Linked DNA regions of Homo sapiens. The protein of the gene in region 5 purifies or fractionates together with the protein of the main gene of each other region. This does not show direct contact. Each region holds a gene or a part of one and is shown on either strand. Other genes may lie near its edges. The genes, in order: PLAA, PI4K2A, DNM3, FKBP10, LAMP1, ATP6V1A and ORC4.

Region 1 (4,596 bases), on a different chromosome or scaffold from region 5:
ACACAAAAGAGAAGACATGTATCATGAAATAAAAATTGTCAATATGTCAGATTTGAGGACACTTTTACAACATTAAAGGTATGGTTGAGACACTTCAGTTGGCATCAATAAGAGCTTAATCACCTAATGACTATGAAACACTCTAACCCTGGGGTATCCAATCTTTTGACTTTCCTGGGCCACATTGGAAGAAAAATTGTCTTTGGCCACGCATAAAATACACTAATAATTACAATAGCTGATGAGCATTTTTAAAAAAATCACAAAAAAAGCCTCATAATGTTTTAAGAAAGTTTATGAAATTTGTGTTGGGCCACTCTTACAGCCACCCATGGGCCACAGGATGGACAAGCTTGCTAACCTAACCAGCAGGATATGAGAGACTAAATAATCTTATCTCACTACGCACTAACACACACTGTGGCAAAATGCAAGTTCTTCATCAGTGTTAGATAAATACATACAGGAATGAATTTTGAAAAACAAAAACAAAAAAATCATGAGTTCGGCCAGGCGTGGTGGCTCACGCCTGTAATCCCAACACTGGGAGGCCAAGGTGGGCAGATCACCTGAGGTCAGGAGTTCAAGACCAGCCTGACCAACATGGAGAAACCCCATCTCTACTAAAAATACAAAATTAGCCGGGCATGGTGGCACATGCCTGTAATCACAGCTTCTTGGGAGGCTGAGGCAAGAGAATCGCTTGAACCCCGGAGGCGGAGGTTGCAGTGAGCCAAGATTGTGCCATTGCACTCCAGCCTGGGCAACAAGAGCAAAACTCTGTCTCAAAAAAAAAAAATCAATAGTTCAATGAACAACAAAATCACTTTTCAAATAGAGAATCAGTTCAGCCCAAAGTTCTTCAAGTTCCTGGTAAGCACAACCACTCCAGTGATTAAACCCTTGTCAAACTAGTACAGTCCCAAAAGTTTAATGACAGGATTCCATTATTAAAACAGGCATCCTTGATTATACTCCTTACTGCAATGGTTATATTCTACTGGGCTTATGCTTCTACTGGATTCAATTTTAAAGGCAAAAACTTAATAACTGTACTCAAACAAAAAGTTCCATATTAGTATTACTAAGTAGTTTTGGATATTATAGAATTTTAGAGTTAGATCTTTAGAGATCATCTCATTCAATTCAATACAGGAATTTGCTCTATACTATCCCTAGCCTAGTGGACCATCTTGTGTTGATTATACTACTTCAAAAGCCTCCAAGCAAACCCACTTCTACACTTATCCCTTCTCAATCTATTCTCTACCATCAGCTAGCAGAAACTTCTCAACACGGAAATCAGATCATGTTGCTCCCTGCTTGAAACTATTTGAAGGCTTCCATCTGCAAACTCCATAACCTGGCTCTTGCCAGCCTCAAAACCTGCCCTCACCTCACAGCTAATTCCCTCCTGTTTGCTCCTCCAGCTGCCTGGAATGCTCTTCCAATTCAATCCTCCCTATTTGCTCTTCCACGACCAGCTCCATCCATCTCATGCTTCAAATGTCAACTTTAAACAAACAACTCCTCAGAGAGGCTTCCTTTAATATATCTCTCCACCTAATTAACTGTATGTTTTCTTCACATGCCAGTTTTTAATTATTTATTGGCTTGTTTTTTAATCTATCTTCCCCATCAGACTGTAAGAAAGCTCCAGAAACACTGGCAACTTGTCTGTCTTTATTCCTCTCCAGTATCCCAAACAAAGAGGAGGCACTCAACAGTTATCAACTGAATTTATGGATGGTGACTCAAATTCTAAAATCTCTAGCAGTGGGAGACCTACTAAATAACAAAATAACTAACCTCAATTTTTCTTTCTCTGAACTGCAATCTGTCTTCTAGGTCTTAAATATCCTGTTACAACCAGCCAAATCAGGGCTGAACCCGTGAACTCGATCAGGACTGATTCCTAACCTTTTTCTTCTTTTTTTTTTTGGTTCGTGAACCCTTCTGATAAATCCTTTGAAGGCAATGGATGCTGCTTCTCCTCAAGAAACAGCACATGCACAGAAACAAAACATCCGAGAGGTTTCACTCCCTCAGGACCAGCACAGACCACAGACTAAAATTCTAACCTGGACGAAAAGAGGATTCACCAGTGCAATTTTTGAGAACTAAAGTCTTCAAAAATTAAATTTTACAGAAGACTACAGAGCATCTTCTTCGAAAAAAAAAAAAAAAGAGGACATTTCAGATGCCTTCAAACTACCTCACTTCGGAGGGTGCAACTGCAATCAGTAAATTTTCAAGTCTAAAAGAAACTTGGGAGATCATCGTCCAAAAACTGAAGGCCCAAAAGGTAGGAGACTCGTCTGTGGTCAAGTTAGCACAACAAGGCAGGTCTTTGGTCCCCCAACCCTGTGCTCTTTCCACTTAAATCCCGATGGTTTCTTACAGAGTTCTAATAGTCTGAGAATTGGAAGGGAGCGGAGAGCAGAGGGAAGGCTGGGGGGAGAGAGAGACGGCAGGACTGACAGGGAAGGGTCACTCTCCTTCCACTCTCCGGGAAGCGTGCAACACAGCCGGGGCAACCCGACTCCCAGCGCTCACCTGTCTGGGGCCCAGAGGCGGGTGGTGCGGTCTCGGGACACGGACACAAAGGCTCCCGGCGGATAGGCGCAGCACACCAGGCCCCGTACGTCCAGCTCGTGGCCCCGGAGCGAGCAGCTCAGCCGGTACCTGGTTGCGCCGCTCGTCATGGCCAGTGTCTGTCTGGCGCCCGGTGCCCAGGCACTGTGCGAGACCAGTCCGCAGGGGCGACTCGGAGAGCGCCGGGCCGCGGCGGGAGAAGAGCCTGCAGGTAAGGGGCGGCCGGAGACCGGAAGAGCCCGAGAGCCGGTACGGAAGGGCGGCTGGGAAGGGGCGCGCCGAGCGGGCCGAGTGACACAGCAAGCCTGACAGGCACTCCGGAATTCATCATCGGCCTCAGCCCTCCATGACGCAGAGTGTGTGCGTCCCAACCGCCGACGCCGATGCGGAGCTGAGCTGGCTTTCCTCCAGGGCTCTGGACTCCCTGCTGAGCAAGAGAGAAAGAGGCCCGCCCTTCCACCAGGACGCCTGACCCTGGGGTCCTTCCCAAACCCGGGTCTCTTCCGACTCCGGGCCCAACAGTTTGTGGTAAATCGGGAAGCGGGCCGGGACTACAATTCCCATAATGCCGCGCCAGCTGGCGTGGACATCCGGCGCGCCGAATCCGGATATTTTAAACCTGAGTCTTTCGCGCTGGGCATGGCGGAATGGCTGAGTGAGGTTGTTTGGTGTCTACTGTTAGGTCATCCTCACTGCTTTTCCCTGAGAATCTCGAGGTTTTTGCAAGTTAACCTTGTTTTTCAATTAAAACGAGAAAGCTTGAGGCCAAATTGGGAACTATTAATCATTGAACTATTCCTCCGTTTCAAGTTATCTGAATCTCCTACTCTCTGTTGTCAAATTTAGCAAATACGGTGGTCCAAGTCAATTTTTTAAAGGTATAACTACTTTTCTCTGGCGGCTTGTTAAAATGTAGATTCTGATTCAGTAGGTCTGAGTTAGAGCTGAGATACGTATTTTTAACAACCCCGCCGCCCACCCACCCGTGGTGCTACTTGCTAGTCATTATCAGACCTTATTGAGTGCCAGGGTAAACATGACCTGTCTCCTTACTTTGTTTTCTTCCCATCCGCTATTCTCTCGCATCCAACTACACTTTTCCACAAACCTTTCTAAATTGCTAAGCCCAATTCACACTTTTCTGACTTCTCCCTTCCTAAAACTCCTACTCTAGGTTTGGAATCACTTTTCCCCTGGTTTGGGAGATCATTCTTGAAATGCTGACTTTTGATACTTCTTTGCTATCATATCCCCTCCCTGGGTGGATTATTTACTACTTGGCTTATTTCTAGAGCTGTATTCCCATATTGTCTTCTCCAAACTCTAGATCTGTATTTCTAGCTATCTGTTAGAAATCTGTACCAATTAGTCCTACTTAAATTATTTCAACATTTCTCTGGCCTTTCTACCCCTTCTCTCCAGCCAATCCTACACATTAAAATATAATTATCTTTCTGAAATATACACTTAATTGTTTTTTCTCTGTTTGACAACCTGTGATGGCTTTCCATTATTTTTTTTTTTTTTTTTTTTTTTTTTTTTTTTTTTTTTTTGAGACGGAGTGTCGCTCTGCTGCCAGGCTGAGTGCAGTGGCGCGATCTCGGCTCACTGCAACCCTCGCCTCCCGGGTTCAAGCGATTCCTGCCTCAGCCTCCCGAGTAGCTGGGACTACAGGAGCGCGCCACCATGCCCAGCTAAATTTTGTGTTTTTAGTAGAAACGAGTTTCACCATGTTGGCCAGGATAGTCTCAATCTCTTGACCTCATAATCTGCCCTCCTCTGCCTTCCAAAGTGCTGGATTATAAGCGTGAGCCACCACGCCTGGCCGGCTTTCCATTCTTATAGTACAGCATTACATAGGGCCTTTCACACAATCTCCCTAATCTGTTTTACTAGATTCATCTCCCTCTGTTATCTCTCTTACTCTAGACATTTCGAATTTGTCACAATTCCCTGAACACATTATGCTGTATGCTCTCCATGTCTCTATGCTCTTTGTAC
Region 2 (3,950 bases), on a different chromosome or scaffold from region 5:
GCCATGTTGGCCAGGCTGGTCTCAAACTCCTGGCCTCAAATTATCCACCCGCCTTGGCCTCCCAAAGTGCTGGGATTACAGGCATGAACCCTTGTACCTGGCCTGCTTCTGTGTCTTGCTCCTAGAAATGTAGCAATCCATTTACCTTGTTTGTTTGAAGCACAAAGTTAGAGGTAGGTACTTATATGAGGGAAAAGAGATGGAGAAGAGGGAAAAAGGAGCAAGGAAGAAAGAGAAGACTTAAGATGTTCTTTGGCCACAACCCTTTCTAGCAGTGGGTCTCTTAGCTGCACACACGAGCTGGTGTCTTCCCCTTACCAACTGGGAGAAACCTGAGTCCAACTGTAAGTAGGAATTGTCTGCCTATGCCCTGTCATTTCTTTCCAGATTCCTGCTGACTTGGTCTGTGGGCTATTTTGGTCAACTCGGATTTAACATCCTCTTTTTCTTTGGTCTCTGTAGAGGATCATTGCTGTCTTCAAACCCAAGAATGAAGAGCCCTATGGGCATCTTAATCCTAAGTGGACCAAGTGGCTGCAGAAGCTGTGCTGTCCTTGCTGCTTTGGCCGTGACTGCCTTGTCCTTAACCAGGGCTATCTCTCAGAAGCAGGGGCCAGCCTGGTGGACCAAAAACTGGAACTCAACATTGTTCCCCGTACAAAGGTCAGTGACCCATCTCCAGGAAGCCTTACTGCCTGGCCACAGTTTTCCTGGGGCCTAAGCCCTGCTACATGTTAGTGGGACCTTGGGTCCAGTGGGGTCATTTATACCCTAAGTCTGGGTTCTCGATCTTTTTTCGGGAGGATGGCAGGATTAGGCTTATGATTTGATCACCTGATGAAGGCTATCTTTTGAAGGATACACACACAATTTTTGCATACAATTTTAGGAAATTCACAAACTTCTACTGCATGTTTATGGCTCCCTTGGTCTTTGAATCCCAGCTAACCCCAAGCTAGTTAGAAACCTAGTGACTTTGTGGCTTACTCTCAGACTTCTGAGCCATCCCAGCATTTCGATACAGTCTAGGACTGGCTGATGACAGCTAAGAACTTCTGCAGGGTCTGACAAGGAAGACTTTAGGACAGGCTGAGGGTTAGAACAATGGTCTGGCCTGAACCCTACAGGGAACTGACATGGAATATTTCTAACTTATCTTTATGCTGTCGAATTTTGGGACTTGTCTGAACACATCAAAATAGGGGTGCCAGATCTAGGCAAACTCACACTCAGAATGGATTCATACACATCTTGTATGTGTTATAGACATAGTTGAGGTCTCCCCCAACCCCCACCCCCACCAATATGCTTGAATACAGAATTGATTGCATACAATTTGAGGGAGTTTACTGACACCAGGCTAAGAACCCCTGCACTACAAGGTATTCCATGAAACTCACCAAAGGTTATGAGGGGAAGGAATCTACTGGTCAGCATATGAACATGTCCGGACACATCATTCACTGAGTACGTGGCTACCTGGGGTTTAGTAACAACTTAGGTGGGACTCTCATCTGATGCCCTGAGGCTGCTGAGTCATCTAAACAATCCTGGCTCCGTGCTTAGTCTTAACTAGTCTATGCTAGTTTATTTAGTTATTTACTAAATAACTAAAACTAAATTTATTTAGTTATTTAGTAAATAACTCTTTGAGAATCTGATGAAACCTATAGACCCCCTTTCCAGAAAAAGTACATATATTTGCAATTATTGTTTTGTGTATAATTTTAGGGCAATGGTTCATAAACGTTGCAGTCTATCTGTTGACACCCCAGGGAGCATGTCTCTAGATTAAAATCCCTCTGCTTAAAGTTTTCTTTTCTTTCTTATTTTTAGAGACAGGGTCTTGCTCTGTTGCCCAGGCTGGGGTGCAGTGGCATGATCACAACTCACTGCAGCCTTGACCTCCCAGGCTCAAGCAGTCCTCCCACCTCAGCCTCTCAGGTTGGGACTACGGGCATGTGCCACCATGCCTGGCTAATTTTTTTTTTTTTTAATTTTTTGTAGAGACAAGGTCTCCCTGTTTTGCCCAGGCTGGTCTTGAACTCCTGGGCTCAAGCTATCCTCCTGCCTTGGCCTCCCAAAGTGCTGGGATTACAAGTGTGAGCCACCACACCCAGCCTTAAAGATGTCTTCTCAGGTTTAGATAGCAGATTCTATGAGCAAAGAGATTGATCAGCAGTAGAAACTTCCCTTCCGTTTGAGAGGAAAATGTGACTATTGTGGATATTTAACCATGTCTGCTCCTTTGCTACTAAACTCCAAACAATTAGCCAACTAGTTTGTAAGTTATAGAAGTCAGAGACCACTTCTCAAGATTTCCTCTCTCATTCTCAGCACCTAGCAAAATACTATATTTATAGTAAGCATTCATGAAGTACCAGCTGAGTCAGTAAATGAATATGAAATCATGAGAAACAATACCAAAGTTCTTCCAACTTTAGGTCTAGCGAGAAAATGTTTGACCAGGCTTCTAGTTCCCATTTCACATCTAATTCACTGCCTGGCTTTGTACAGCTCATTCCTTCTCTTTATGCCTTACTTTTCCCTCTCTGTGCAGATAGTTTTACAGCATGCTTTGAACATCTTGTATGATAATTAATGTTCTTAAGTCTCCTAACCTGAAATGCTTCTACTAGGCTCCTCTTAGACTCTAGAAACTTTTACATTCTCCTTGCTTATCACTCTATAGTTTTCTTCCTTTACTAGGCAAATAGCAGACCGTGTCTGGCTCTATGCCTACCTGCTCTGTTGGTGCTTCTGGAGTGTGGTGCCCAAGAATCAGAGGACTTGAGTTTGAATTCTTGCTCTGCAGTTTTTGATTTGTGTAACACTTGGGCAAGTCATGTAACCTCCCTAGGCTCAGTTTCCTTACTGTAAAAATAGGGATATAAATAGTTCCTACTTTGTAGAGTGGCCATCAATATTACACAAGACAGCCTATATGAAGCACATAGCTGAGTGAGTGCCAGGCACAACGTAAACCCTCCATATGTTAGCCTGTGATATTTTTATCAGCTATTCTAATCGTTAGTGTCACCCCCACAATCCCTTTCGTCCCTATCTTTGGTCTTCCTCTTTCCCTGTTAGAGAACCTTCACGAGGCCTGAGGATCTTTTGCATCAGAAAGTCAGCAACAACAAAAATACTTGTCTTGGCTGGGCTCATTGGCTCACGCCTGTAATCCCAGCACTTTGGGAGGCCTAAGTGGGTGGATCACCTCAGGTCAGGAGTTCGAGACCAGCCTGGCCAACAGGGTGAAACCCTGTCTCTACTAAAAATACAAAACTTAGCTGAGCATGGTGGTGCGTGCCTGTAATCCCAGCTACTTGGGAGGCTGAGGCAGGAGAATCGCTTGAACCTGGAAGGCAGAGGTTGCAGTGAGCTGAGATTGTGCCACCACACTCTATCCTGGGCAACAGAGCGAGACTCCGTCTCAAAAAAAAAAAATACTTGTCTTCCATGAGACTGAGATGAGACAGAACTTTGGAAGCTTAACATATAGCTGCTGGAGAATAGTAAGAGGACTCCTCTCCCTGTCTCCCCAACTCTTGTGACAGGACTCTATCCAGTTGATCAGAGCATCTGTCATTATAGAAACAAGGTTCACATTGCATTGGAACTTCAAATGGTAAGGCTCTAATTCTCACTCACTGGCTGTCTCTGCTCTCTGCTCCTATGAGGTTTCAGGTTATGATAGTTTCATTAGTCATGGGGAAAAAGTGGTTTGTTAGGAAGAATGATAGAAAATAAATATGATGGGGGCAAAAGGGGATTTATGGCTTGAGAGAGCCAGGAGTTTCACTGTGGACACTGGCAAGGTAGCCTTAGGAAAGCTCTTTTTCCTTCATTCCTATGCCTGAGTTTTCTGATTTGTAAGGCAGGGAGTGCCTACTACAGTACCATGCACATCCATTTTAGGTAGTCTATTAATACTAGATGGTAGCATG
Region 3 (3,950 bases), on a different chromosome or scaffold from region 5:
GCCAAAAGACAGAGGGAAACTGTTACTGTCACCAGTACTGGGGATAGAGACAAAACAAAAGTAAACAGACGCTTGGTGCTTCACTTTTCCCAGGGTGGACTTTGGTGGACTTTGGTGGACTTTGTCCAGACTCTGACTGCCACAGCCATGTTTCTACCTCCACTCAGTCACTCATTTATTCCCATTTTTATTTCTCTGTGGTGATCTGACAGGTTAAAGATTTCATAAATTCCGAGCTCCTAGCACAGTTGTATTCTTCAGAGGACCAAAATACCCTGATGGAGGAATCTGCTGAGCAGGCTCAGCGCCGGGATGAGATGCTTCGAATGTATCAAGCACTGAAAGAAGCCCTTGGGATAATTGGGGACATCAGCACAGCCACCGTGTCCACTCCGGCACCCCCTCCAGTGGATGACTCCTGGATACAGCACTCTCGCAGGTAAGAAGATGGCCCCGGCCGGGTGCGGTGGCTCGCTCCTGTAATCCCAGCACTTTGAGAGGCCGAGGCGGGCGGATCACGAGGTCAGGAGATCGAGACCATCCTGGCGAACATAGTGAAACCCTGTCTCTACTAAAAACATAAAAAAAATTAGCCGGGCGTGGTGGCGGGTGCCTGTAGTCCCAGCTACTCGGGAGGCTGAGGCAGGAGAATGGTGTGAACCCGGGAGGCAGAGCTTGCAGTGAGCCGAGATCGTGCACTGCACTCCAGCCTGGGTGACAGAGCAAGACTCCGTCTCAAAAAAAAAAAAGAAGATGGACCCACCCACAACCCCTGAGCCCTGCCACGCTTGTCCAATATCATTTTCTGAGAGTGCTTTCCTAAACCAAGATGGACCTACAGAAAAAGGGGAAAAGATATTTACATTCAGGAGTAAGGATCAGATTATACTAACTCCCTTAAAAATGCAGCACAGTGCATCCTCACAATGGAATGTTATATAGTCACTAAAAAGAACAAGACAGTTCTATTAAGTCCTAAAATGAAAAGATAATCCAGTTAACGGGAAGCTTTAAAAAAAAGGGAGGTTGTATGCCAGGCGCGGTGGCTCACGCCTGTATTCCCAGCACTTTGGGAGGCCGAGGCAAGCGGATCACCTAAGGTCAGGAGTTTGAGACCAGGCTGGCCAACATAGTGAAACCCTGTCCCTACTAAAAATACAAAAATTAGCTGGGGGTGGTGGCGCACACCTGTGATCCCAGCTACTCGGGAGGCTGAGGCAGGAGAATCGCTTGAATTCAGGAGTCAGAGGTTGCAGTGAGCCGAGATCACGCCACTGCACTCCAGCCTGGGTGACAGAGCGAGACTCCGCCTCAAAGAAAAAAAAAAGGAGGTTGTAGAAGACTGTGTTCTATGGTATACAGAAAAGCAATTTATATATAGAGAGAGAAAATATATACTTATACAAATGTAGAATACAGTTAAAAAGGATGCACAAGAAACTTCTATAGTTGTTTCAACAGAGTGAAGGGGTAGGGAGAGGAAAACTTACTTTTCTCCATTTACCCTTTTATCCCTTTGACTTTCATGACATGAATTGGACTTATTCAGTCAAAAAATAATTTTTAAAAAGCAGGAAGTTACAAAACATTTTTAGAGATTAATTCAGACAGAAAGGAGGAGTGAGCAAACTATGATTTCTCTTTTTCCTCAGGTCACCTCCTCCAAGCCCCACAACCCAAAGGAGGCCAACACTAAGTGCTCCCCTCGCAAGGCCCACATCCGGCCGAGGACCAGCTCCTGCCATTCCCTCTCCTGGCCCCCACTCTGGGGCTCCTCCAGTCCCATTCCGTCCAGGCCCATTACCTCCTTTCCCCAGCAGCAGTGACTCCTTCGGAGCCCCTCCACAAGTTCCATCTAGGCCTACGAGGGCCCCGCCCAGTGTCCCAAGGTAAGGCATGGAGCAGAAATTGGGGGGGTAGTGCGCCTTGGTTCTCTTCTCATAGAATGACAGACAAAATTTATTTGAAAGAGAAAATTGCAAAGATCTTATCGTACGTGTTTGCAGTTTTCACAATGAACAGAGACTATAGGAAAATTGCCAACCCTGTTATGCCATTTAAAAATCACTTGTGATCATTGAAATTTCTCATTTATCAATTGGCACAGACTAAATAGGACTAAAGAACACTCCGTCCCAATGAATGACATTTTGGCAGCTATTGGGAGAATTTGAGGGCTTTGAAACAAAAGAGCTATGGAGGATTGTAGCAAGCTGTGTGTTCTATAGGTCATGAGAGTTCCATGGACTAAAGTCTTGCCTTCTCCATTATCAAAAGAATTCTTGAAAACCACTGACTTAGAGAATTTTATCCATCTGCCTTCTGAACTGTGATCCTTATACTCAATTTTACCAATTTTCATATAGGCTGAATAAATCTGGCTGATTGATCTGCAATTGTTTTTTTAAAAACTACACATAGAAATTTTAATATAGGCATGATTGTTGTATACAGTCACTAATCATATATAAGATAGATCATTGTACATCTGAATAATACGTGTTGACAATTATAAGTGGATTTTCAGGCTTAATTGTGAAACAATATAGCTAATAAATAATGGACCTAGAAACACACATAGTTGGAGCTGTAGTCTCACCTTCATATACTTACAGTCAAAATATACACAATGAATAGAATCAGAGATTTTTAAGGTATAAAGTACTAAGGTTTTTTTCCCCCTCAAAATCAGAAATATAAAGAGGAAAGAAAATTAGCCCATATATAAAGTTAATTTTTAAAAAATTCAATTCAGAGAATTAAAATATTTATATACTCCATGAAGGAATATCTGACTGTATATGAACCATAAAAACAGATGTGACTTCTACCCATCCCTGAAGCCTGAGCCACCTTGCCAACTGATTATGGCACTTACGTTTTATTTTAATCTTCAAGTTGTTAAGCGTAATGAAGAGAAGAGAAGAAGGGGGATCTTAAGCTAGTACACAGAGGGTGGTACAGCAAGAATAGGCAGGAGATTTGCAGTCAGAAGACCTGGGTTACTGAAGGTCTTGGGCAACTCATTTAACTCTGAGACGGGAGTTCTTTATCTATGAAACAGGGAGAACTCAATAAGGTTGTTCCCCAGATCATATGACATGAGGTATTTGAAAGAGTTTGATACACTGTAAAGACTACAGTTGTTACCACTGTTATCATTTTGGTCCTAAGCAAAGAGGATATATACACACTCTCAATCCAATTTTTTTTCTCTAAATTCAATAGACTTGGCTTATAAATTATTTGGAATGGTGCTAAATTTCTAGTAATAGCAGTACTAGCAATAGCCAACATTTATTGTGCCCTCAATATTACTAGGCATTGCCCTAAGAACTTTGTATATACATTTTTGTTTAAAGCTCACAACAAATAGGTTGTTATCCACATTTTACAGATGAGGCAGTGAGGTTAAACAGCTTGCCCAAGGCTGCTCAGCCAGTCCCTAGTGGAGCTGGACTTTAATCCCATGCAGTCTGCTTCCAAAGCCATTTCCTGACCATGACCCCAGGGTTTTTCAGCCTCATCAGTACTGACGTTTTTGTTGTGGAGGGCTGTCCTGTGTATTGTAAGATGTTTAGCAGCATCCCTCCCCTCTACCCTCTAGATTTCAGTTGCAGTCCCCAGTTGTGACCACTAAAAATATCTGTAGACACTCCCAATGTCCCTTAGGGGAGTAAAATTCCTCTCCACGTGAGAACCACTGCACTGTAGTATTCAAAAGAATTCCCTTCCATGTAAAACCATGAATTTCCGCATTGAGCCTTGCTACAAGCAAGATCCAATTTATTATTTTAGAAAACCTCAAATTGACTAGGAAAGTGTCTGCCATTGTACCAGGAAGGTATTGAGGCCATTGGAAGAGGAAGAGTTGAGAGTGGGAAGGCTGGAGTGCCATGCAGGAGCTACTTTTGTCTGTCTAGCTGTGAGAAAAAACCAGAGCAAACTGG
Region 4 (3,950 bases), on a different chromosome or scaffold from region 5:
CTCCTGGGTTCACACCATTCTCCTGCCTCAGCCTCCCGATTAGCTGGGACTACAGGCGCCTCCACAATTTTTTTTGTATTTTTAGTAGAGACGGGGTTTCACCATGTTAGCCAGGGTGGTCTCCATCTCCTGACCTCATGATCTGCCCGCCTCGGCCTCCCAAAGTGCTGGGATTACAGGCGTGAGCCACTGCGCTCGGCCAGAAAACTTTCTTAACCCATGGCCCCTTCAATTAAAAAAAAAAAAATCTCCCATCCTCACTTTACTTCTGAAAACTTAAAATAAATTAAAAGTGTATATAATTGGCTGGGCACAGTGGCTCACTCCTGTAATCCCAGCACTTTGGGAGGCCCAGGCAGGCAGATCACTTGAGGCCAAGAGTGACCAGCCTGGGCAACATGGCGAAAGCCCTCTCTACTAAAAATACAAAAATTAGCCAGATATGGTGGTGCATGCCTGTGATCCCAGCTGCTACTTCGGAGGCTGAGGCAGGAGAATCGCTTAAACCCGGGAGGTGGAGGTTGCAGTGAGCTGATTGCACCACTGCACTCCAGCCTGGGTGACAGAGCCGAGACTCCATCTCCAAAAATACATATGTATAAGTAAAAATAAATACATTAATTAAAAGTGTATAACTAAAAACAAACAAAAGCCATGGCACTTTTAGAATAGGCTTTTTTTTTTTTTTTTTTTTTTGAGAGGGAGTCTCACTCTGTCGCCAGGCTGGAGTCCAGTGGCACGATTTCGGCTCATTGCAACCTCCGCCTCCCGGGTTCACGCCATTCTCCTGCCTCAGCCTCCTGAGTAACTGGGACTACAGGCGCCCGCCACCACACCTGGCTAATGTTTTGTATTTTTAGTAAAGACGGGGTTTCACTGTGTTAGCCAGGATTGTAGAATAGGCCTTTTCAAAATGTGAAACCAGCTCCCACCCCACCTCTGCTCTCCCGTCTTTTCTTGGAGAGCCAATAGTATAATGGCAAATTTTAGAACTCAGCTGACTACATATTAGCTGTGTGACCTTGGGCAAGGCACTGAGTCTCTCAAGTCTCCATTGCTCTCATTAAGAAAAATGAGAACAAGAATGCCCACCTCACAGGGGAGACAAAGAAGATACGGAATGTAAAATGCCAAGCATTTAATCCCATATAGTAATGCTCCTCTGCCCCTCCGTGCTGTACGTACCACTCCCCACTTGCTGTCAGCAAATAGTAGCAGCCATCAGGCCCGGGCATCCCACCCAACCCCGTCCCAGGGCAATAGCAGCCCTTGTCCTCCTCAGGGACTTGCCTTTCACAACAGTCCGTTCTCTTAAGGTGGGCGTCACGGCCGACCTAGGAGGGGGACTTGAAAAGGAGGTGAGAAGTGTGTGTGCGTATCCACACCTGGCTATAGGGAGGGGGGATTGTGTGCGTGTGTGCAGGCACACCTGTGCATCTGTGCCACCATGGGCAGTGTGTGTGTGTCTGAGGTCACTGTATCCCATCTGTCCCTCCCCCCCCAGCTATGATCGCAACACCTTGGTGGCCATCGTGGTGGGTGTGGGGCGCCTCATCACTGGCATGGACCGAGGCCTCATGGGCATGTGTGTCAACGAGCGGCGACGCCTCATTGTGCCTCCCCACCTGGGCTATGGGAGCATCGGCCTGGGTGAGAAGGGCTGGGGCACAGGCCGGGGGTGGAGGAGACCACGAGGCAGAATCAGGGATCCTGGGGTGAGAAAACTGAAGTGCGGAGATGAGGAGTGACTTGCCCAATGTCACACTGTGCACGCAGTATGAAGAGTGGCAGCTCTGGCTGGGGCAGTAGCTGACATATATGGTCCCAGAGTTTTGGGAGGCCGAGGTGGGAGGATTGCTTGAACCCAGGAGTTCCAGACCAGCCTAGGCAACATAGTGAGACCTCGTCTCTACAAAAAATAAAATAAATTATCCAGGTGTGGTGGTGTGTGCCTGTAGTCCCAACTACTCAGAAGGCTCAGGTGGGAGGATTGCTTGACCCCGGGAGGCTGCAGTGAGCCATGATCATGCCACTGAATTCCACCCTGTGTGACAGAGCAAAACCCCTCTTTTTTTCTTTTTCTTTTTTTTTTTGAGACAGCATCTCACTCTGTTGCACAGGCTGGAGTTTAGTGGTGCGATCTCGGCTCACTGCAACCTCAGCCTCCTGGGCTCAAGCAGTCCTCCCTCTCAGCCTCCCAAATAGCTGGGACTACAGGTGCACACCACCACACGTGGCTAATTTTTTGTATTTTTAGTAGAGATGGGGTTTCGCCATGTTGCGCAGGCTGGTCTTGAACTCCTGGGCTCAAGCCATCCACCTGCCTTGGCCTCCCACAGTGCTGGGATAACAGGCATGAGCCACTGTGTCTGGCCCCCTATCTCTTAAAAAAAAAAAACAAAAATAGTGGCATCTCTGTCCCTGGTTTGGGTCTCTTGGTGCTGGGATGAGAGGAAGGGGAATAACAGGGCCCTGGCTGGGATCGTGGTTGGCAGAGCAGAACTCTGAGACCTCCACGCTGCTGCGCTCTCACAGCGGGGCTCATTCCACCGGATGCCACCCTCTACTTCGATGTGGTTCTGCTGGATGTGTGGAACAAGGAAGACACCGTGCAGGTGAGCACATTGCTGCGCCCGCCCCACTGCCCCCGCATGGTCCAGGACGGCGACTTTGTCCGCTACCACTACAATGGCACCCTGCTGGACGGCACCTCCTTCGACACCAGGTGAGGGGCTGGAGGGGAGCCCTGAGGCACTGGGGACTGTGGCATGGGGAGCGGGAATCCGGGGCCCAGCCTGCCTCTCCCACCTCCACCTCATTTTCTGCAGCTACAGTAAGGGCGGCACTTATGACACCTACGTCGGCTCTGGTTGGCTGATCAAGGGCATGGACCAGGGGCTGCTGGGCATGTGTCCTGGAGAGAGAAGGAAGATTATCATCCCTCCATTCCTGGCCTATGGCGAGAAAGGCTATGGTGAGGGTGGGCAAGGACACAAGGGGAAATTCCGCAGAAGAGGGAAAAACCAGGCCTCCACATACAGTTGCTCAGGTTGTATACTGCACGAGGGCATCCAACCAAGGACTCAAGGTGGGATGAAATCTACCCTTGGTGCTACTAAGAAGGGGTGCTTTGGCCGGGCGTGGTGGCTCACGCTTGTAATCCCAGCACTTTGGGAAGCCAAGGCGGGAGGATCACGAGGTCAGGAGATCGAGACCACGGTGAAACCCCGTCTCTACTAAAAATACAAAAAAATTAGCCGGGCGTGGTGGGGGCGCCTGTAGTCCCAGCTACTCGGAGAGGCTGAGGCAGGAAAATGACGTGAACCCGGGAGGCGGAGCTTGCAGTGAGCCGAGATCGCGCCACTGCACTCCAGCCTGGGTGACAGAGCGAGACTCTGTCTCAAAAAAAAAAAAAAAAAAAGAAGGGGTGCTTTATTCTGATTCACACGAAGGCTCAGTATGAGCCGGTGGTGGCCCTGGGGAAAACCCAGCTCAGGTCTTACTGGAGGAGCAAGAAGCAGGGCTGCTGATGGGCGGGAAAGGGCTCTGGAGAGTGGGGCTAGTGTCTTGCATGGTGCCCACTGGGCCTTCCTGAGTCAAGAAGGAGCCTCGGCTTGCTCCCCAATTTTATGGTTCAAGCCCTATCCCTTCCCCAGGGACAGTGATCCCCCCACAGGCCTCGCTGGTCTTTCACGTCCTCCTGATTGACGTGCACAACCCGAAGGACGCTGTCCAGCTAGAGACGCTGGAGCTCCCCCCCGGCTGTGTCCGCAGAGCCGGGGCCGGGGACTTCATGCGCTACCACTACAATGGCTCCTTGATGGACGGCACCCTCTTCGATTCCAGGTCAGGAGGGTCTTGAGGTGGGAGGGCGGGGGCTGGGTGAAACGTGGACGAAGCTGGGGGTCACTCTGAGCTGCCTGGAAGGGGAGGGCCCCTTTGACTCCCTT
Region 5 (3,950 bases):
GGGTTTTGCCATGTTGGCCAGGCTGGTCTCCAACTCCTCGCCTCAAGTGATCCACCTGCCTCAGCCTCACAAAGTGCTGGGATTATGGGTGTAAGCCACCATGCCCAGCCAGGTCTCAGCTTTCAGAGGAAAACAAAGAAATATCATTTAAATAAATTTAAAGTAAGCTTTGGCAGCACAAGATGCCTGTATTACTCTGGAGAGACCCAGGAATTTTGAGTTATTAAAATAAACTTACCCTCAGAAGGCAATTTTGGTATAGAAGAAAATAAGAGCATCAGCACACAGAGCTTGAGGAGGAAATGTATGTATGCTATAAGGGTCAGAAGTTTTTTTAAAAACCTCCACAACAGTGGCAACTGGGTAGCAAAAAAAAAAAAAGACAAAAAACCTCAAGTAAGTTACAATGTTTCCAGTAACCTGACAGGTGTCACAGCCCAACAGGACAGCCGTTGGCAGCATCTCCAAGGTGGGCACCCTGGCCTACTGGTGACTGCTATCTCCGGCAGTCCTGTACTCAGACACGAACAGGACCACTTCTCCAGGGATCACATAAAGGAGTAACTGTGGCTTCAAAATACCCCCACTTGGGAGAAATTCTGTTCTCTGAAACAAGTGCCGCTGTGGGAAGCATGCGTGCTTCTGAGTCACAGCCCTCAGTTCTTGGAGGTTCTTGCAGCACTTACTAGCTGTGCAACCATGGCCAGTAGCAGAGCCCAATCCCCAGTCTCTGCACCCACGAGCAGGAGGAGAGAGTGCCAAGGCCTCAGGGCTGTCGGAGCAGCTGAGCATTTGGTGCCCGGCACTGACGCCAGCTTTGATGTCAGCTGTTATTAAACATCTGCACAGGTACAGAGGGTTCCCATCAAGTTCATCATTCAATCCTCAGTATCTGACACAAAACATCAAAAACTATCTCATTTAACAAGCACTTGGAATGCACTTACTTTGTGCCAGGTGCTGCTCTAAGCACATCCCAGTTATCATGACAACTCTTCATAGGGAGATTAAGGCATAGAGAGGTCAACTAACCCACCCAGGTCACACAGCTAGTGAGTGGCGGAGACCTAGATCTAGAAGGGGTCTTCTGACTCACAGGACGTGCCACTTCTGAGCCACGCTGCCTCTCCAGCACTTGATGACTGAGGGAACGGGCTTCCAATGAGGAAACACTGGCTGGGTGCAGTGGCTCATGCCTGTAATCTCAGCACTTTGGGAGGCTGAGGAAGCGGAGGACTGCTTGAGGTTAGGAGTTCCAGACCAGGCTGGTCAACACAGCAAGACCTTGTCTCTTAAAAAAAAAATTTAATTTTTTTGAATTAAAATAAATAAAAATTAAGAAATACTCGCTTTTGACATTAAAGATTACCATCTGAAGAAATGAGTAAAAAACTTCATTTTAAAAAATTAGGCCGGGCACAGCCCGTAATCCCAGCCTGTAATCCCAGCACTTTGGGAGGCTGAGGCAGGCGGATCACCTGAGGTCAGGAGTTTGAGACTAGCCTAGCTAGCATGGTGAAACCCCGTCTCTACTAAAAAATATATACAAAAATTAGACGGGCATGGTGGCGCATGCCTGTAGTCTCAGCTACTCGGGAGGCTGAGGCAGAAGAATCACTTGAACCCGGGAGGTGGAGGTTGCAGTGAGCTGAGATCGTGCCACTGCACTCCAGACTGGACAACATAAAGAGACTGTCTCAAAAAAAGAAGAAAAAACAATTTATTAAGAAATTACATCTTAGGCTGGGTGTGGTGGCTACCGCCTGTAATCCCAGCACTTTGGGAGGCCGAGGTGGGCAGATCACCTGAGGTTAGGCGTTTGAGACCAGCCTGACCAAACATGGAGAAACCCTGTCACCACTAAAAATACAAAATTAGCCGGGCATGGTGGCGCATGCCTGTAATCCCTGGTACTCGGGAGGCTGAGGCAGGAGAATGGCGTGAACCTGGGAGGCGGAGCTTGCAGTGAGCCGAGATCGCACCACTGCACTCCAGCCTGGGCGACAGAGCGAGACTCCGTCTCAAAAAAAAAAAAAAAAAAAAAAGAAATCACATCTTAGTTTTTCTTGGCTTGATTCTTTTAAATATGGTATTTTTATTCTACTTAACCAATGATGCACAATCATTTATGAAGAACTAAAGGAAAAAAATACCATCCCAGGCACTGAATCACAACCTCTAGAGGCAAGGTATAAGTGTGTGTGTGTGTAAATATATATATATATATATATATATATATATATATATATATATATATATTTTTTTTTTTTTTTTTTAAATGGAAACAGAGTCTCACTCTGTCACCCAGGCTGGAGTCCAGTAGCATGATCTTCGCTCACTGCAACCTCCGCCTCCCGGGCTCAAGCAATTCTCCTACCTCAGCCTTCCAAGTAGCTATGACTACAGGGGTACGCCACCATGCCCGACTAATTTTTTTTGTATTTTAGTAGAGATGGGATTTCACCATATTGCCCAGGCTGGTCTCGAACTCCTGAGCTCAGGCAATCCACCCACCTCGGCCTCCCAAAGTGTTAGGATTACACGTGACAGCCACCGTGCCCGGCCGTATATTTCTTTTTAATTTTTTTTGTAGAGACACTGGTCTCGCCATGTTGCCCAGGCTGATCTCAAGCAATCCTCCTGCCTTAGCCTCAAAGCACTGAGATGACAGGCATGAGCCACTGTGCCTCGCTGTGGTATGTATATTTCTAAAAAGCTGATCGTGTGGATCCGTGCATATGTTTGGTTGAGAGCCACTGCTATAAAATTGATCCTTTCTTCATATATGTACTCAGCACTTACTACCTGTCAGTTAAGGAAGGGAGATACACAGGCAAAAATAATCCCAGTGCAGCCGAACAGATGTTACCATGTAGAAGCACATGCAATAAAAGTCTTGGGTACAGAGAAGAAAGGGTAACGTTGTCTGGGATGGGGCTAATGCAATACAAATTCAAAATTACAGGGCTACAAAGACATTCTGACCTCAAATCTGCTGACAAATTCATTCTTTCCACCGCATAACTGACAATCTGCACAATCAAAGGTAACATCGGTTAGTAGAAAAAAAATTTTTTTCTTTGTTTTTTTGAGATGGAGTCTCGCTCTGTTGCCCTGAAGAGCAGTGGCACGATCTCGGCTCACTGCAACCTCCACCTTCCGGGTTCAAGCAGTTCTCCTGCCTCAGCCTCCTGAGTAACTGGGACTACAGGCCTGTGCCACTACGCCTGGCTAACTTTTTAAAAATATTTTTAAAAAGAATAGAGATGGAGTTTCACCATGTTGTGGCCAGGATGGTCTCGATCTCTTGACCTAGTGATCGGCCTGCCTCAGCCTCCCAAAGTGCTGGGATTACAGGCATGAGCCACCACACCCAGCTTTTCTTTCTTTTCTTTTTCTTTTTTTTTTTTTTTTTTTGACATTGAGTTTCGATTTTGTTGCCCAGGCTGGAGTGCAATGGCACGATCTCAGCTCCCTGCAACCCCTGCCTCCCAGGTTCAAGCAATTCTCCTGCCTCAGCCTCCCACGTAGCTGGAATTACAGGCGCCTGCCACCACACCACGCCTGGCTAATTTTTGTATTCTTAGTAGAGACGGGGTTTCACCACATTGGCCAGGCTGGTCTCAAACCCCTGACTTCAGCTGATCCGCCCACCTGGGCCTCCCAAAGTGCTGAGATTACAGGCGTGAACCACTGCACCCAGCCGAGTATAAAATTGTTCAAACCTCCTAAGTGACAGTTGTTCAAGTGGAAAGGGTAAGGCGGTCATCCTGCTGACATCAATGGTTTAAAGGGTCACATTACGCAATCACAGCTAATCCTATCTATCAGGACAAGTTTCAGTTCATGTTTGAGCTTTCTAAGTATTCAAACACAGTAGCTTTAAACAATGCCTAATTATTAATATAGTGGAAATTTGTAATTGAGCAGTTTCTTTTTTTAAGAAAAAA
Region 6 (3,950 bases), on a different chromosome or scaffold from region 5:
TTCTCCAGTAAGTAAAGTGGTTTCCCTAGGTCTTAGTATATTACTTTTAACACATTAAGGAAGTTCCGTTCTATTCCTTGTTTGCTAAGATGTTTCTAAAAATTGTAATAAACTTCAAATATTTTTCCACATTAACTGAGATATCCTTTTTCCATTGTATTATTACATTAGTGAATTACAATAGATTTTCTGTGTCTAATATGGACATTCCTGAGATAAACTTGCTTATGATGTATCATTTTATTTTCTTTAATATCCTACTAGACCTCATACACTAATATTTAATATTTTATTAAGTATCTACATTCATACCTACATTCATCAACAATATTAGCCTATAGTTTTCCTTTCTTGTATTGTCTTTATCTGGTTTTGCAGTTCTTCCTGTTTCTTGCTTCTCTTATTGGGCAGATAAGAGAATATTTTTATTCTATAAATAGTAAGTAGTAATACATGTTAGAATGTTAGCTATCTCCTAATATTAACCTTTTTTGGAATAAATTAGGAGATGACTTTGTAACATGTAATAAAAAGAACAAAACCAGACAAAGAACTCTGAGTACTAACTAGCATTGCATACTATCTGAGAAGTCTTTTCATTCTGGCATTTAATTTGCCTAAATTTAATTACACCATCTTTCCTTGAAGAATCCAAGATACAGGCACAAGAATGTAACTCACCTGTTTAAGGCCAATAGCTAATTATTGGAGGAACTAGAAGCCAATCCTTCTGAAACCTAGCCCTAGCATTCCTACAAAAATGTATGCTAACAAATCCTAAATCTACTACCTCTAATTTGGTTGGTGATGGGTATATTCCATTTCAAGATAAAAGTAAATCAAATGTTTCTTTCTCACATACAATATACCCAAAAACCATGCTAAGTACTATAATGAATAGAAAATTTCAATTAAAAATATTTAATAAATATTTATTTTGCTAGGCAAGAATCTGTAATATCCAAGGCTCTATCTGTCCTTGAAACACCCCAGTGTAACCCACAGATCTATCTTCCATGGAATTTAACAACTCACCTTTCCCACAAGCTGTACAATTTCTGCCAGGTCTTCTTCTTCCTGCAGAATTTCCTTAGCTTTCGTCCTCAGAGGAACGAACTCTGTGAAGTGTTTGTCATAGTATTCATCCAAGGCACGCATATACTTGCTGTAGCTGATGAGCCAATTGACAGAGGGGAAATGCTTACGTTGAGCTAGTTTCTTATCTAAGCCCCAGAACACCTGATTAAAAAAAACACACACACAAAAACAGTAATTTTTCTCAAAAAACAAAGTTAAAAAATACCGAAGCATGTTTGTCCCAACTATGCAATTCTTTTTTTTTTGTTTTTGAGACAGAGGCTTGCTCTGTCACCCAGGCTGGAGTGCAGTGGCATGATCTCGGCTCACTACAACCTCCACCTCATGGGTTCAAACAATTCTCCTGACTCAGCCTCACCAGTAGCTGGGATTACAAGCATGCGCCATCAGGCCCGGCTAATTTTTGTACTTTTAGTAGAGATGGGGTTTCACCATGTTGGCTAGGCTTGTCTCGAACTCCTGACCTCATGTGATCCCTGGCCTCCCAAAGTGCTGGAATTACAGGCATGAGCCACCATGCCTGACCCCTAAATATGCAATTCTACAATTCACTGGTCAAATTATACATCGTTTTAGTATATACTAAGTAAAATTAAAACAGAATAAAACTTGCAGAAAATGACAATAATCTATTTCCTTTCATTTTCCAAGTGCATAATACCTACAAATCGAATTTAAAATTTACCTCTATTTTCTTAATACTGTGCCAAATCCAAAAGCAAAAAGAAAAATTAATTTACTCTTTTGAAAATTATTATGGTACAATAGAACCAGAAAAGGTTTATGTAGATCGAATACACACTTTACTTTGATTAAAAACCTCTAACTGGCCAGGCATGGTGGCTCACGCCTGTAATCCTAGCACTCTGGGAGGCTGAGGCAGGTGGATCACCTGAGGTCAGGAGTTCGAGACCAGCCTGGCCAACATGGCAAAACCCTGTCTGTACTAAAATACAAAAATTATCCGGGCGTGGTGGTGGCGCATGCCTGTAATGCCAGCTTACTTGGGAGGCTGAGGAGGAAGAATTGCTTGAACCCGGAAGATGAAGGTTGCAGTGAGCTGAGATCACGCCACTGCACTCCAGCCTGCATGATGGGGGTGAGATTCCATCTCAAAAAAAAAAAAATTTTTTTTTTAACTGTTCTGGGCCAGGCATGGTGGCTCACGCTTGTAATCCCTGCACTTTGGGAGGCTGAGGCGGGTGGATCACCTGAGGTCAGGAGTTCAAGACCAGCCTGGCCAACATAGTGAAATATTGTCTCTATTAAAAACACAAAAAATTAGCCAGGTGTGGTGGCGGGTGCCTATAATCCCACCTACTTGGGAGGCTGAGGCAGGAGAATCACTTGAACCCGGGAGGTGGAGGTTGCAGTGAGCTAAGTTTGTGCCATTGCACTCCAGCCTGGGCAACAAGAGTGAAACTCCGTATCAAAACAAACAAAACAAAAACATCTAAGTGTTTTGATTAAATTTAGTTGCCTATCATTCACAGGGCCAATCCAACAACAACTGACAGTGATTTTTGTAAGGGCAAACATTCACAGATATTCCATGCATTTCTAACTCTGTTCCCTCTTTCCCCATAATTTAAAACTCAAAATTTTAGCAAACGTTAAAAAGCTTGAGAGTTGTACATTTAGCCTCTGACATTTCCTTTTCTCTGATACTGTCAGAAACACAAGTAAATATTCTGTTTTTCCCACATGAATAATATACACATATCACTTTTTTTTTTTAACTATAGCTCTGATTTGTACACATCTTTTATTTGGGCTTCTTTTAATAGCCAAGCTGGCTACCTATCCACTAAAATTCATGTCTTGTCACTGGAAAGCAAATGCTTAGGCAGAAACTGCATTTTCCAGCCTTGCTTTCACCTGGATGTGGCTAATAGAATGAGTGGAGTGACTGTGTCACTTTTGAATCCAAGGTTCAAAAAAGGTGGGTATGCCTTCTCCACAAGGCCCAGCTCCCTTGTGTCAGCTAGATGCAGATGATCACCAGGCTAGGTGACAGTGGAGTCACAAGATGGAAAGAATCCTGGACTCAGAATTATCACTAAACAGAAGAGAGCCTTGGATCATACTGTGAAGTGAAATAACTTCTGGGTATTACACATTTTTGGGCCTCTTTGTTTCTATAACTAGGGTTACTATGACTTAAAGGATAATACTACTCTAATACTAATAAAATTTTTGCTACCTATATTTTCCACTTATATATTATTAAGTTTATTATAAATCCTATGTAAACAGCTAAGAAAAAAACAGACAGTATTAAAGGCTCTGTGTTAAGAGTGTTTCTAAACCAGACTTTACCATTGCCTATCCTTTAGAGACTAAATTAAATACTTCACAACGATTACATTAGATCGCATTAGAACAGCAGGGGCTGCAGAGAGGAGGAAAGGCTCAGAAGTTGACTATACTAGGGAAAGACATACCTGAACGATACCAAGAGTGGCAGATGTAACTGGATCAGAAAAATCACCACCAGGTGGAGAAACTCTAAATTTAAAAAAAATATGGTCATTACAAAAAAAATGGTCATTAGAAATGCTTATGAAAAATAACATATATATAAATGTTAACTTTTTTTAAAGTCGATTTTAATGTAAATAACTTTTTAATGTAAATAACTTTAGAAATGACCTTTGGAAAGAAAATCTTACCTAAAAATCTTAAACAAAAGCCAGTATTTAAGTTGTAAACAACAATAGAAACTACAGAACACCTTCTATTATGAGACATGAGATAGATATTTTATTATAATCAATTTTATTATTCTAATCAAATAGATGAAGCAAGGAGGAAACGCTCTAAGAAAAAAGTATGGCTTTATGTAGTGATCA
Region 7 (3,950 bases), on a different chromosome or scaffold from region 5:
AGCTTGAGCCCAGGAATTCAGGATGATTGTGTGCAATACAGCGAGACCTCATTTAAAATAAAAATAAACACAAAAAATCAAAATCAAAAATAAAAATAAAAGCACATTGCCTAACAAAGCTGGGGACTCAGATAAACTACCCAATTTATGTTCAGAGTTTAAGGACAACATCATTAGGATAAGAGGAAATTGAAGGAAAATAGAATTCATGATCTTAAAGTCTTCCTTAATGTCATGTGTATAACAGAAGGAATCCCAACTCTTGAACATGAATAGTGACTTGGGACTGAAAGCACTCCTAGAGACCTTTCCTAGAAAAATGTACCTTCTTAAAAAAGATACTATTATTCTAGGACTCATATATTCCTATAATTTTTTAAATACAACTGGTACTCAAGGCACACAAGAAAAAAATATCATAAGCTAGCAGACACAGACTTAGAAAATTTAGAAACTGGAATTATCTTCAACAAACAACAAATGAACTATGAATATAGTCGGCCCTTCATAGCCACAGATTCACTCAACCAAGGATTAAAAATACATGTATATTTTTAAAAACACGACTATAAAAAATAATAGAAATTTTTAAAAAGCCATGACAGTATAACAATATTTACATAGCATCTACATTGTATTAGGTACCATAAGCAATCTAGAGATTATTTAAAATACGTGGGAGGATGTGTGTAGGCCGTATGCAAACATGATGGCATGTTATATAAGGAATTTGAGCTGCCTGTGGATTGTGGTATCTGCACGGGGTTCTGAAACCAATTTCCAGCAGATACTAAGGAGCAACTATACTAGGCCAATAAAAGCAAGATTGTAATTTTCAGCAGGTAACCAGAAACAGTAAGAATATCACCAATATCTTTAAAAAGATACTGATGCATTGATCTAATAATCTCGATGAATACAGGGCAAGATAAAGAATGCCACACGATGATTGAACATTTCCTCTACCCCCACAACCACACTTGACTAGGAGAAAAAAAAAAAAGAAGAAAAGAATTCCACACAAAAAGATTAGAGTGAAACAGCAGAAAAATTACAACCAAAAAAAGAAACAAACAAAAAAAAATTCTAAAAGAGAGATTTCCTTCAAAGCAGCATGAATTATTAGGTTGGTACAAAATTAATTGTGGTTTTTGCATTGTTGGAATTTGCCATTTGATATTGGAATTTTTTTTTTTTTTTTTTTTTTTTTGAGATGGAGTCTCTCTCTGTTGCCCAGGCTGGGCTGCAGTGGCGCGATCTCGGCTCACTGCAAGCTCTGCCTCCAGGGTTCACACCATTCTCCTGCCTCAGCCTTCTGAGTAGCTGGGACTACAGGCACCCGCCACCACGCCTGGCTAATTTTTTGTATTTTTAGTAGAGACAGGGTCTCACCATGTTAGCCAGGATGGTATCGATCTCCTGACCTCGTGATCCGCCCACCTCAGCCTCCCAAAGTGCTGGGATTACAGGTGTGAGCCACCACACCCGGCCTGGAATACATTCTTAAATAAATGTGGTTATGTTATATGTCATTTTAATGGGCATTTCTTGCTTTTTTTTTTTGGCTAATGACTTATTACTTGCTGTTTATATTTATTTTGGACTATGGAAATGATGCTAGACAAAAAGCAAAGTTGAGTGATTTTCTTATTTAAGTTCAAAGTGGGTCGTAAAACAGCAGAGACAACTTGCAATATCAACAATGCATTTGGCCCAGGAACTGCTAATGAACGTACAGTGCAGTGGTGGTTCAAGAAGTTTTGCAAAAGATACCAGAGCCTTGAGGATGAGGAGTGTAGTGGCAGGCCACTGGAAGTTGACAACAACCAATTGAGAGCAATCATTGAAGCAGATTGATCCTCTTACAATTACATGAGAAGTTGCTGAAGAACTCAACGTAAGAACTCAACGTCAACCATTCCACAGTTGTTCAGTATTTGAAGCAAATTGAAAAGGTGAAAAAGCTCGATAAGTGGGTGCCTCACCAGCTGAGCAAAAATTTAAAAAAACACCGTTTTGAAGTGTTGTCTTCTCTTATTCTCCACAACAACGAACCATTTCTCAATCGGACTGTGAGGTGCAACAAAAACTAGATTTTATATGACAAGCAATGACCAGCTCAGTGGCTGGACCGCGAAGAAGCTCCAAAGCACTTCCCAAAGCCAAACTTGCACCAAAAAAGGCCATGGTAACTGTTTGCTGGTCTGCTGCCGGTCTGATCCACTACAGCTTTCTGAATCCTGGAGAAACCATTACATCTGAGAAGTATGCTCAGCAAATCAATGAGATGCACTTAAAACTGTGATGCCTGCAGCCAGCATGGGTCAACAGAAAGGGCCCAATTCTCCACAGTAACACCCAACCGCACACTGCACAACCAACACTTCAAAAGTTGAACGAACTGGGCTACAAAGTTTTGCCTCATCTGCCATATTCACCTGACCTCTCAACTGACTACCACTCCTTCAAGCATCTCTACAACTTTTTTCAGGGAAAATGCTTCCACAACCAGCAGGATGCAGGAAAAAGCTTTCCAAGAGTTTGTGGAATCCTGAAGCATGGATTTTTACATTACAGGAAAAAACAAACTTATTTCTTGTCGGCAAAAATGTGTTGATTGTAATGACCTATTTTAATTAATAAAGATATGTTAGAGCCTCGTTATAATGATTTAAAATTCGCTGTCCCAAACCACAATTTCTTTTGTACCAACCTAATGCATTGACAGCTGATTTCTCAAAATCAATAATGAAAACCAAAAACAGTGAAATGTTATCTTCAAGGTACAAGTAAAACAACCACAAATCTGTAATATCCCCCAAAACATTCTTCAAGATTGAAGGCAAAACAAAAAATTAAGACAAAGCAAAAAAATTAAGAGAACTGACCATCAGAATGTCTGCATTATGAAACTTCTACTGAGTGTGCTAAAGTAAAAGTTAAAAGATTCCAAAAGAAAAGTCAGAGACGCAGGAAGAAATTAAGACATGGTAAACACATAGGAACATCTAGCTCAAAGTACTGTCCAGCAGCAATACAGTAAAAGTGACATAAGTAATTTAAAATTTTCTATTGTTCACACTAAAAGAAAACAAGGTGAAATCAATTATAATTTCAACATGTAATCATAATGAAAAGCTGAGGTATTTTACATTGTTTTCATACTGTCTTTGAAATATGGTGTTTATACAACATTACAATGCAGATGCTAAATTAAAACTGCCATATAAAATACTTGATCTATATTTTTATATAATTTGCAGCTAATGCCGGGTGCAGTGGCTCACGTCTGTGATCCCATCACTTTGGAAGCCCAAGGTGGGTGGATCACTTGAGGTCAGGAGTTTGAGACCAGCCTAGCCAAAATGGTGAAACTTTGCCTCTACTAGAAATAAAAACATTAGCCAGGTGTGGTGGCACATGCTTGTAATCCCAGCTACTAGGGAGGCTGAGGCAGGAGAATCACTTGAACTTGGGAGGCGGAGGTTGCAGTGAGCCAAGATCATGCCACTGGACTCCAGCCTGGGCAACAGAGCGAGACTCCATCTCCAGGGGGGAAAAAATCTCCAAAAATTAAAAAATAATAATTTAATAATTTGCGGTTAAGAAAGGTTTATGTATCCGAGTTGTTCCAAACATACAGGTTTTACAGTAACTGAATCAAGTGTCAGTTTTTAAACTTAATTGAACACTAAATAAAACTAAAAATTCAGTTCCTCAGTCATACTAGCCACATTTCAAGTGCTCAAAAGCCACACGCAGCTAGTAGCTACTGCAATGAATAGCACAAGCATAGAACTTGTTATCTGGAGTTTAAACTACGTATACAATTCAAAGAACAATGACAGCCTATAAGACCTACATGAAGATAAAAGTTGCCATCCCAGAAGAGAGTAATGCTCCAAGCACAGAGAAGATATTGGCCATACTGCTAGAAATCCCTGAGTAAA

The links.
Region 1: the proteins of LAMP1 (region 5) and PLAA purify together in Homo sapiens (affinity purification with mass spectrometry; 2 studies listed by BioGRID and IntAct, with this or other methods). This does not show direct contact.
Region 2: the proteins of LAMP1 (region 5) and PI4K2A purify together in Homo sapiens (affinity purification with mass spectrometry; one large-scale study listed by BioGRID and IntAct). This does not show direct contact.
Region 3: the proteins of LAMP1 (region 5) and DNM3 purify together in Homo sapiens (affinity purification with mass spectrometry; 2 studies listed by BioGRID and IntAct, with this or other methods). This does not show direct contact.
Region 4: the proteins of LAMP1 (region 5) and FKBP10 purify together in Homo sapiens (affinity purification with mass spectrometry; one large-scale study listed by BioGRID and IntAct). This does not show direct contact.
Region 6: the proteins of LAMP1 (region 5) and ATP6V1A purify together in Homo sapiens (co-immunoprecipitation; one large-scale study listed by IntAct). This does not show direct contact.
Region 7: the proteins of LAMP1 (region 5) and ORC4 purify together in Homo sapiens (affinity purification with mass spectrometry; one large-scale study listed by BioGRID and IntAct). This does not show direct contact.

What each region holds. Positions count from the first base shown.
Region 1 is NC_000009.12:26,944,341-26,948,936, forward strand, and holds the start of PLAA (phospholipase A-2-activating protein), read right to left. Parts: upstream 2,903-4,596; 5' UTR 2,706-2,902; coding exon 2,557-2,705; intron 1-2,556. UniProt on the Homo sapiens protein: Plays a role in protein ubiquitination, sorting and degradation through its association with VCP. Involved in ubiquitin-mediated membrane proteins trafficking to late endosomes in an ESCRT-dependent manner, and hence plays a role in synaptic vesicle recycling.
Region 2 is NC_000010.11:97,650,479-97,654,428, forward strand, and holds part of PI4K2A (phosphatidylinositol 4-kinase type 2-alpha), read left to right. Parts: intron 1-462; coding exon 463-663; intron 664-3,950. UniProt on the Homo sapiens protein: Membrane-bound phosphatidylinositol-4 kinase (PI4-kinase) that catalyzes the phosphorylation of phosphatidylinositol (PI) to phosphatidylinositol 4-phosphate (PI4P), a lipid that plays important roles in endocytosis, Golgi function, protein sorting and membrane trafficking and is required for prolonged survival of neurons.
Region 3 is NC_000001.11:172,386,921-172,390,870, forward strand, and holds part of DNM3 (dynamin-3), read left to right. Parts: intron 1-212; coding exon 213-439; intron 440-1,652; coding exon 1,653-1,889; intron 1,890-3,950. UniProt on the Homo sapiens protein: Microtubule-associated force-producing protein involved in producing microtubule bundles and able to bind and hydrolyze GTP. Most probably involved in vesicular trafficking processes, in particular endocytosis.
Region 4 is NC_000017.11:41,815,554-41,819,503, forward strand, and holds part of FKBP10 (peptidyl-prolyl cis-trans isomerase FKBP10 precursor), read left to right. Parts: intron 1-1,504; coding exon 1,505-1,650; intron 1,651-2,535; coding exon 2,536-2,725; intron 2,726-2,828; coding exon 2,829-2,974; intron 2,975-3,656; coding exon 3,657-3,846; intron 3,847-3,950. UniProt on the Homo sapiens protein: PPIases accelerate the folding of proteins during protein synthesis.
Region 5 is NC_000013.11:113,299,954-113,303,903, reverse strand, and holds part of LAMP1 (lysosome-associated membrane glycoprotein 1 precursor), read right to left. Parts: intron 1-3,950. UniProt on the Homo sapiens protein: Lysosomal membrane glycoprotein which plays an important role in lysosome biogenesis, lysosomal pH regulation, autophagy and cholesterol homeostasis.
Region 6 is NC_000003.12:113,795,532-113,799,481, reverse strand, and holds part of ATP6V1A (V-type proton ATPase catalytic subunit A), read right to left. Parts: intron 3,607-3,950; coding exon 3,543-3,606; intron 1,240-3,542; coding exon 1,036-1,239; intron 1-1,035. UniProt on the Homo sapiens protein: Catalytic subunit of the V1 complex of vacuolar(H+)-ATPase (V-ATPase), a multisubunit enzyme composed of a peripheral complex (V1) that hydrolyzes ATP and a membrane integral complex (V0) that translocates protons.
Region 7 is NC_000002.12:148,014,123-148,018,072, forward strand, and holds part of ORC4 (origin recognition complex subunit 4), read right to left. Parts: intron 1-3,950. UniProt on the Homo sapiens protein: Component of the origin recognition complex (ORC) that binds origins of replication. DNA-binding is ATP-dependent. The specific DNA sequences that define origins of replication have not been identified yet.